2 linked regions of the Homo sapiens genome follow. The protein of the gene in region 1 purifies or fractionates together with the protein of each later gene. This does not show direct contact. Each region holds a gene or a part of one and is shown on either strand. Other genes may lie near its edges. The genes, in order: PBK and LGALS9B.

Evidence for each region.
Region 2: the proteins of PBK (region 1) and LGALS9B purify together in Homo sapiens (affinity purification with mass spectrometry; 3 studies listed by BioGRID and IntAct, with this or other methods). This does not show direct contact.

Annotation. Positions count from the first base shown.
Region 1 is NC_000008.11:27,817,143-27,821,066, reverse strand, and holds part of PBK (lymphokine-activated killer T-cell-originated protein kinase), read left to right. Parts: intron 1-372; coding exon 373-502; intron 503-1,406; exon of another isoform or gene 1,407-3,924. UniProt on the Homo sapiens protein: Phosphorylates MAP kinase p38. Seems to be active only in mitosis. May also play a role in the activation of lymphoid cells.
Region 2 is NC_000017.11:20,460,924-20,464,847, forward strand, and holds part of LGALS9B (galectin-9B), read right to left. Parts: intron 1-3,924.

The sequences.
Region 1 (3,924 bases):
CACTTGAAGCCAGGAGTTCGAGACAGACCAGCCTGGTCAACATGGTGAAACCTCGTCTTTACTAAAAATACAAAAATTAGCCAGGTGTGGTGGTGCCCGCCTGTAGTCCCAGCTACTTGGGAGGCTGAGGCAGGAAAATCACTTGAACCCAGGAGGCGGAGGTTGCAGTGAGCCGAGATCGTGCCACTGCATGCCAGCCTGGGCAACAGAGTGAGACTCCGTTTTAAAAAAAAAAAAAAAAATTTTGAAACGCTGGACAAATGTAAACCTAGAGTTTAGGAAGGGAGTTCAAGTTGTTATATTTGGAGGTTATCACATTTTTTTATTAGTTTGTGTTTCTGCACATATGTGTTAAATTTTTTACTATTTTAGTATCTGCACCAAGAAAAGAAACTGCTTCATGGAGACATAAAGTCTTCAAATGTTGTAATTAAAGGCGATTTTGAAACAATTAAAATCTGTGATGTAGGAGTCTCTCTACCACTGGATGAAAATATGACTGGTAAGTTGTACTCTTAAGTTTTAAAATTTTGTTTTTAATACAGTGTTTACATTTTTAAATACGTAAGTCCACATGGATCAAAAATCAAAAACTATTTTTAAAAAGTATATGGTAAAAAGTCCCCTTTTTTTCTCTCTCTCCCAGTCAGCCTGCAGTCTTCTCCCTTGCCACATGTACAGTATAAATTACTGTATTATTATTAGTAGTAGTATTAGTATATATTTTAACTGGAGTTATCTTTGGGAAATATTTCTAACTGGATTGGGATCTTTAAGCAGTAAAGCATCTGGGAATAGAAAGTAAAATTTAGTAAGGTTGTGTAAAGCGGTTTATTTAGCATGAGTAAAGTGACAAGATTTAGGAAACTGGTAGAAGAAACTGGAATGAAGCAGAAAAGAGGGGTGCTAATGAAGGCTGGTCTTTGGCTCTTTGCCCTTTCTTCTCTATTGCATAGCTTCTCAGGGAATTTAAGATATGTTCTTGGTGAGAAACAAGAGCCAGCCTCAAGAGAAAGCCTCTGCTTGCAACATATTATTTAGTAAATAATACTTAAATTTGTCTCTTTATATCAACAGAAGTTAAACAAATGGTTAATAAATGCTGTTTAGAACATATAAATGCCTGAATTTCTAGCTGAAGTAAAAGTTTACAAGTTGAGTTGAAGGCAAGAGTCAGAATGAATGGACAGACTTTATAAATAAATGATGTCTGTAATCATTAATAAAAATAGAACTGTTGTGAAACCTTATGCTAAATAACTTACAAAATGGGAACTTTAGAAAGTAAAAGGATAAATTGTCAAACATAATAAAAATGAGGGTTTTTAAAGTATTTTTCTCAATGCTTAATAGAGCAAACAGACAAATGTAAGGATGTTAAAGATCTGAGTAAATAGTAAGGCAAGTACCTCTGCACCATAATATTTATTAAAATTGACCATATTCTTAGATCACACAAAAAAACTTCGAATTATAAAAAGTATGAATAGTCTAATAGGTGATATTCCTTAACATCAATGCTGTAAATCTAGAAATTTGTAATAAAATAGGAAACAAAAACTCCAAACTTTTTAGGAATTTAAAACACTTCCGAATAATTTTTGGCTAAAAAGAGAAATCAAATTCCATTTATAAAATATTTAGAAAATATAAGAATATAACAAGTCAAACCCTATTTGATATGTTCAAAACTACTCAAAGGAAACATTTTCATTATTTAACTTTTATGAAGTTAAGTTGAATATTCAACTGAAATTGAAAAAAATGACGCCCTAAGAACAGAAAGCAGAAATGAATGAATTTGATAGCCTATAAATTCTACATAATCTTAATGTGATCTATTCTAGAACATGTCAGAATTAATCTGAAGTTCCTCTTTGAGGATACATGTTCAATCAAACATGGCTGGGAAAACTCGATGAAAGGAGGAGGAATCTTCCTGAGCAGATAAAAAGTTTTATAAAGCTACAGTAATTAAAGCGATGATACTCATGCCAAAATAGGCAGAAAAATAGAACATGAGAGTCAGGAAATAGTTCCCAAATAGAGGAATTTGTTGTGTGATAAAGGTGACATTTTTGTATTAGTGAGAAAAGAGGTAGTTTAGTCAGTAAATGATGTTATCTGGACATTTTAGAAAAAAACACAGCTGTTTTCTATCCTTACACTTGAATCCCCATATATTGAAGATTGGGGGAAAAAGTAACAGTAGAAAAAATTGTAGATAAATAGTTCTTTAATGTTGGCTGTGGAGAGGACTTTAAAGAAGACACCAAAGCTAGAAACCATCATTAAAAAGCCATGGGTACCTCCATTTAAAAAAAAAGAATTCTATATCACAGTGGGTTGGAGAGGGGCAGGGAGCTTAAGACATTAGAAACTGAGATAAATGTATAAGATATTTAATATTTCTAATGCATTAAGAGTTATTAGTAATCAATGAGAAACAGATAAAAGCTCTATTATGAAGAGACTGTTGAGAAATGAAAAAAATGGCAATTAGGAAAATATATATGTAATGTTCTTACTAATGTTTTAAAAGCTAAATAACAATGAGATAATCTGCTATCAACACTCATCACACTGTGTAAATTATCTGTTAAACGTTTCTCCATTCCTCCATTAGGCTTGTAAGCTCTAAGAAGGGAACCTTGTATATCTTGTCCACTGAAATATCCTCAACTCTAGAATAGTGCCTGACTTGTAAATATATTATTGAAGGAGTAACAAGATTGCTAGTAAATAAAAAGATTGCTAGTATGAGCAACAATGTAGGTTAACATGTCCTCTCATACACTAAGTAGAACTTGTAACTGCTGTTTTACTGAGGTTAGAATAGGTTTTGCTGTGGTAACACAGACCTCAAAAACTTCAGTGACTTACAACAACCAAGGCTTATTACTCAAGCTGCATGGCCATTAGCACCTTGTTCTGTGTCATTCTCCCTTTAGGACTTATACTGATGGAACAGCCACTATATGGAACATGGCCACCATTATGGGGAGGGTGAAAAAGCATTGGAGTGGTACTGTCCAATACAGTAGTTATGAGCTGCATGTTGCTATTTACATTAATATTAAAACATTGAAATTATTTTCTCAGCCACCCTAGCCACAATTCAAGTGCTCAGAAGCTACATGTGGTTAATGGTTACCACATTGGACAATGCAGATTTAGGAGATTTAATCATCATAGAAAGTTTCATTGAACAATACTGCTCTAGAAAGTCTTGCAGTGATAGTTAAATGCTCAAGCTCAGAAATGACACAAGTCATTTCTTGTGGTAGAACCTTTCAGGTGACAGTTTGGAAAGCTGTATTTAAAATAAGAAAAACCTTTAAAAATGTTTATGCCCTTTGACCCTATAGTTTCATTCTTAAGAACACAGTCCAAAGAAGTAATTGAGTAATTAGGCAGTACAGGCATTTTTTTTATAATAACCTGATATATTATTTCCTGCAAAACTTCATTGCGCAAAAGTTTCAAGATATAACTAGGTTTATAGAAAAAAAAAACAGGGTTAAAACCTATGCAACTTTGAAAACTAAAGCAGTAACAAAAACAGTTAATAATCCTAATAAAAGATACTAACACATTAAATCTGCAAGGGCATAAACATTTTAAAATATTTTTCTTATTTTAAATGCAGATTTCCAAACTGTCGTCTGAAAGGTTCTACCAGAAGAAATGACTTGTGTCATTTCTGAGCCGGAGCAAGACTTTCTAGAGCAGTGCTGTTCAGTGAAACTTTCTATGATGATAAAATGTTCCTTTGTAGCCATAAACCCTGGGTTTATGCTGAAGGTTACATATGAGAGTATTTTCAATAGATACTTTTCATCAAGATGAAAAATTTGATCTGGCTTTCTCACTAAAAATATATATATATTTTTAAGCGTGTGGGAAATGTGTTGGCAGCTCCTT
Region 2 (3,924 bases), on another chromosome or scaffold:
CTGCAGGTTCCACCGAGAGGGTCACCAGAGAGTGTCAAGAAGAAGGCATGCACCTCTCCCCACCACCACCATATAACAATGGCCACCATGACCTTTGCCCTCCTGACCACCTTCAGCAGAGCCTCTTCCCAGATGCCCTCCGCAGCCCCGAGCCCCAGCGTAGTTTCCCCACCCATCCCAGGCCCCGTGGGCAAGCACTTTGTCAAATTCTCTCTTCCGCGCCTCTTTAAAGGAGCTATGGGCCATGGTGAGGCATGCATCGTTTTGGAGTCAGGCGGACTCCAGGTCTGAATCCTAACTCTGCTGCTCCTGACCTGAGTGGCCTTGGGAAGCCTATTTCACCTCTCTTTGCCTCAGTTTCCTCATCTGTAAAATAGGAAGGTGTTTCTCCTACTGCATATGATTGATGATTTTGTGAGAAAAAGCCTGTGGTAGAAGAGACTGGCACAGAGGAGACGCTTCACCACTGTCACCCACCCCCACCTTGGTCTCTCTGAGCAAAATTCACAAACTGGTACTTCCAATCTTCAAAGTTTATTCCGAAATGCCTCATATCCGGTGTGGTTCTATAACCTGCATTAAAGCACAGTTCTATCTCATGGCTGATTTTCACATTCTTCAAGTTTTTAATGTCTTCTCTAATATCTCCTTTAGGTCAATTTCCTACACAAATTAAATGCCTAAAGAAGCCAGGCAGGTGATGTGTATGAGTCAGATGGCCAGGTAGGGAGTGGTGGGGACTGTGGCAAAGTAGACGTCACACGCCTCATCTAAAAAGTCAACATCTTCTCAGCACTAACCAATGATTACCATCTGGGCTTAGTATTGGCAGAACTTCCAAATTTTTAAGATGAGACAGAAACCTGAATTTTTTTTTTTTTTTTTTTTTGTAAAACTTTCTAATTTCTTGGGGGAAATCTTTTGTCAAAAAGGATTATGTAAAAGTTCCTGACTGGGCACAGTGGCTCACATCTATAATCCCAGCATTTTGGGAGGCTGAGGTAAAACAATCACTTGAGCCCAGGAGTTTTAGGCCAGCCTGGGCAACATAGTGGGACCCCCATCTCTACAAAAAATAAAAAAATTGGCCAGATGTGGTGGTGCACACCTTTAACCCCAGTTACTTGGGAGGCTGAGGTGGGAGGATCACTTGAGCCTGGGAGGTCGAGGCTGTAGTGAGCCACGATTGCACCACTGCACTCCAGCCTGGGCAACAAAGCGAGACCCTGTCTCAAATGAAACTCCCCAAATTCCCACATTGTAGAGATACACAATGAAATATTTACAATGGAATGAAATCTCTGGATTTGCTTCCGCATATCTGAAGGTGGGAAGAGAAGCAAGCGAGGGAGGGTACAGGATGAAGCAAGATAGGCCTGAGTTGATCATTGTTGGAGCAGAGTGATGGGTGTGTGTTGTTGATGGTACAATTCTCTCTGCATGTTTGAATTTCCTATAATAACAAGTTAAAGTAAACACTGTGTAGGCCAAACAGAAAACACCCACTAGCCAAATTCAGCCTACTGGTCACTGCTTTCTGGTCTGTATTGTTGAGTTATGTGACCACACAGCACCCTGGGAAACCCATCCTAGCTCAGTGTACACACCTGGCACCGTGAAAGCCCCAGGCAATCTGAGATCTGATCCAGATAGTCTCTGCTCCCCATGGATTTGAGGGGGTTGTCTTTTCTTGCCCCTCAGGTCAGGTCTGAACTCTGCCATTAAATACTTTGGTGACCTCAAGCAAATCACAGCTTCTCTGTGTCTCTGACTTCTCTTTCTTGTCCCTGTCTACACCAGCGGTGTGGGGGAAGGAGAGTCAGCCTGATCCAGTTATGGGCCAGCATGGGCTAGGATTGGGAAGCCTGTTGTCCCTGAAACACGTCTGTGGAAGATTTTTCCCCTTGCCTGTTTGTGGCAGCCTGTGATTCCCTCCAGAGCCTTTCATTCTATCATGAGAGACAACGCTGAAAATACACACCCTCCTGGGAAGCATGCGGCCTCCACTCAAGCGTATTCACACCACAGCACCTAGAATTGAAGGCAGAGAGTGATGGACATGGGCTCGCAAGTCCACACAAGGCTTAACTAAGGAAGCCAGGAGGGAGAAAGACCAAGTACAGGTCATGGGGGCAGGACAGGGCAGGCTAATCTCCAAGGCAACAAGTTCCCCAAAAAAGTTCTGTGAGGTTTCAAAATGTCTTAAATGGCACCCCCAATTTCTGAAAAACAAGATTATTTTATTATTTATTTTATTTTATTTTATTTTGAGATGGGTTCTCACTCTGTTGCCCAGGCTGGAGTGCAGTGAGGAGTGTGATCATGGATCACTGCAGCCTCCACCTCCTGTGCTCAAGTAATCCTCCCACCTCAGCCTCCCGAGCAGCTGAGACCAAATAAGTGCAGGCCACCAAGCCATACCCCACTAATTTTCAAATTTTTTTGAAAAGACCAGGTCTCGATATGTTGCCAGGGCTGGTCTTGAACACCTGGGCTCAAGTGATCCTTCTGTCTTGGCCTCCCAAAGGGCCGGGATTTCAGACATGAACCACTATGCCTGTCCTGAAAAATGAGATTTTAAATTGAATATCATCCAACAAACAAGGTTATTCATTGCAGCATTATAACACAAAGGATTATAAAGCAAAGCATTGGAAGGAGCCTAAAAGTCTTCCAACAGGGAAAAGGTGAAATAAATTAGGGTATTTCCATATAATAGAATAAGTTCTGTGTAGCTTTCAAAAGAAAAGAAAAAGAAGACGGAAAAGAAAAAAGAAAAAGAGGAAAACTCTGAGCACCGATATGGAATAATGCCATTTGCATAAAAAGTGGGTAGGGGAAGGCTATGGACTTGCATTTATTTATTTATAGATAAAATATCTCTGGAAGGATTTACAAGAAACTTATAATACTGGTTATCAGTGGGCGACCCCCCAGAAACATCCACATTCGAATCCCCGGAAACTGTGAATATGTTGTAGAAGGGACTTTGCAGATGTGATTAAATGCATAATTTTGGCATGGGGAGATTGTCTTGGATTATACAGGTGGTCCCAATGTAATCACAAAGGTCCTATAAAAGGGAGCAGGAGGATCAAAGTCAGAGGTAAGAGATGTGACAACAGAAGCAAGAAGCTGGTTTTGGGGGTTTTGTTTGTTTGTTTGTTGTGTTTTTTTTTTTTTTTTTTTTTTGAGACAGGATCTCATTCTGTCACCCAGGCTGGAGTGCAGTGGCATGATCTCAGCTCACTGCAGCCTCCACTTCCCCAGGCTCACGCGATCCTCCCACCTCAGCCTCCCAGGTAGCTGGGACTACAGGCATGCACCACCATGCCTGGCTAATTTTTGTCTATTCTTTGTAGAGACACAGTCTCAGTTTGTTGCCCAGGCTGGTCTCCAACTCCTGGGCTAAAGAGATCCTCCTGCCTCAGCTTCCCAAAGTGCTGGGATTACAGGCATGAGCCACTGCACCCAGACAAAGCTGCTGGTTTTAAAGATGGCAGGAGGGGTCATAAGCCAAGGCAGGCAGGCAGCCTCTAGAAGCTGGAAAAGCAAAAGAAACAGATTCTCCCCTGGAGCCTCCGGAAGGAAACAACCTTGCTCACACGATGATTTTAACATCTGCCCTCCAGAATCATTAAGAAAGCAAATTTGTTGTTTTAAGATTGGCCAGCCAAGGCTGCTGTGGAATTTAGATCCGTGTGTCCAGGAAACCCAGGAAAACAACTGGACCTACTTTTGCTCCGTAGGGTGCAGGAGGATGGATTTTTGTGTTGGATTTGTGGTCCCATGGGCCTGGGCTCGCCTCCCAGCTCTGTACACTAGCAATTCTGACACTGGCCAAGTCACTTGACCTGCCTGTGCCCCACTTCCCTCCTCTGAATGGCAGGGCAGTAACACCACCCGACAGTGTTCTGGAGAGGA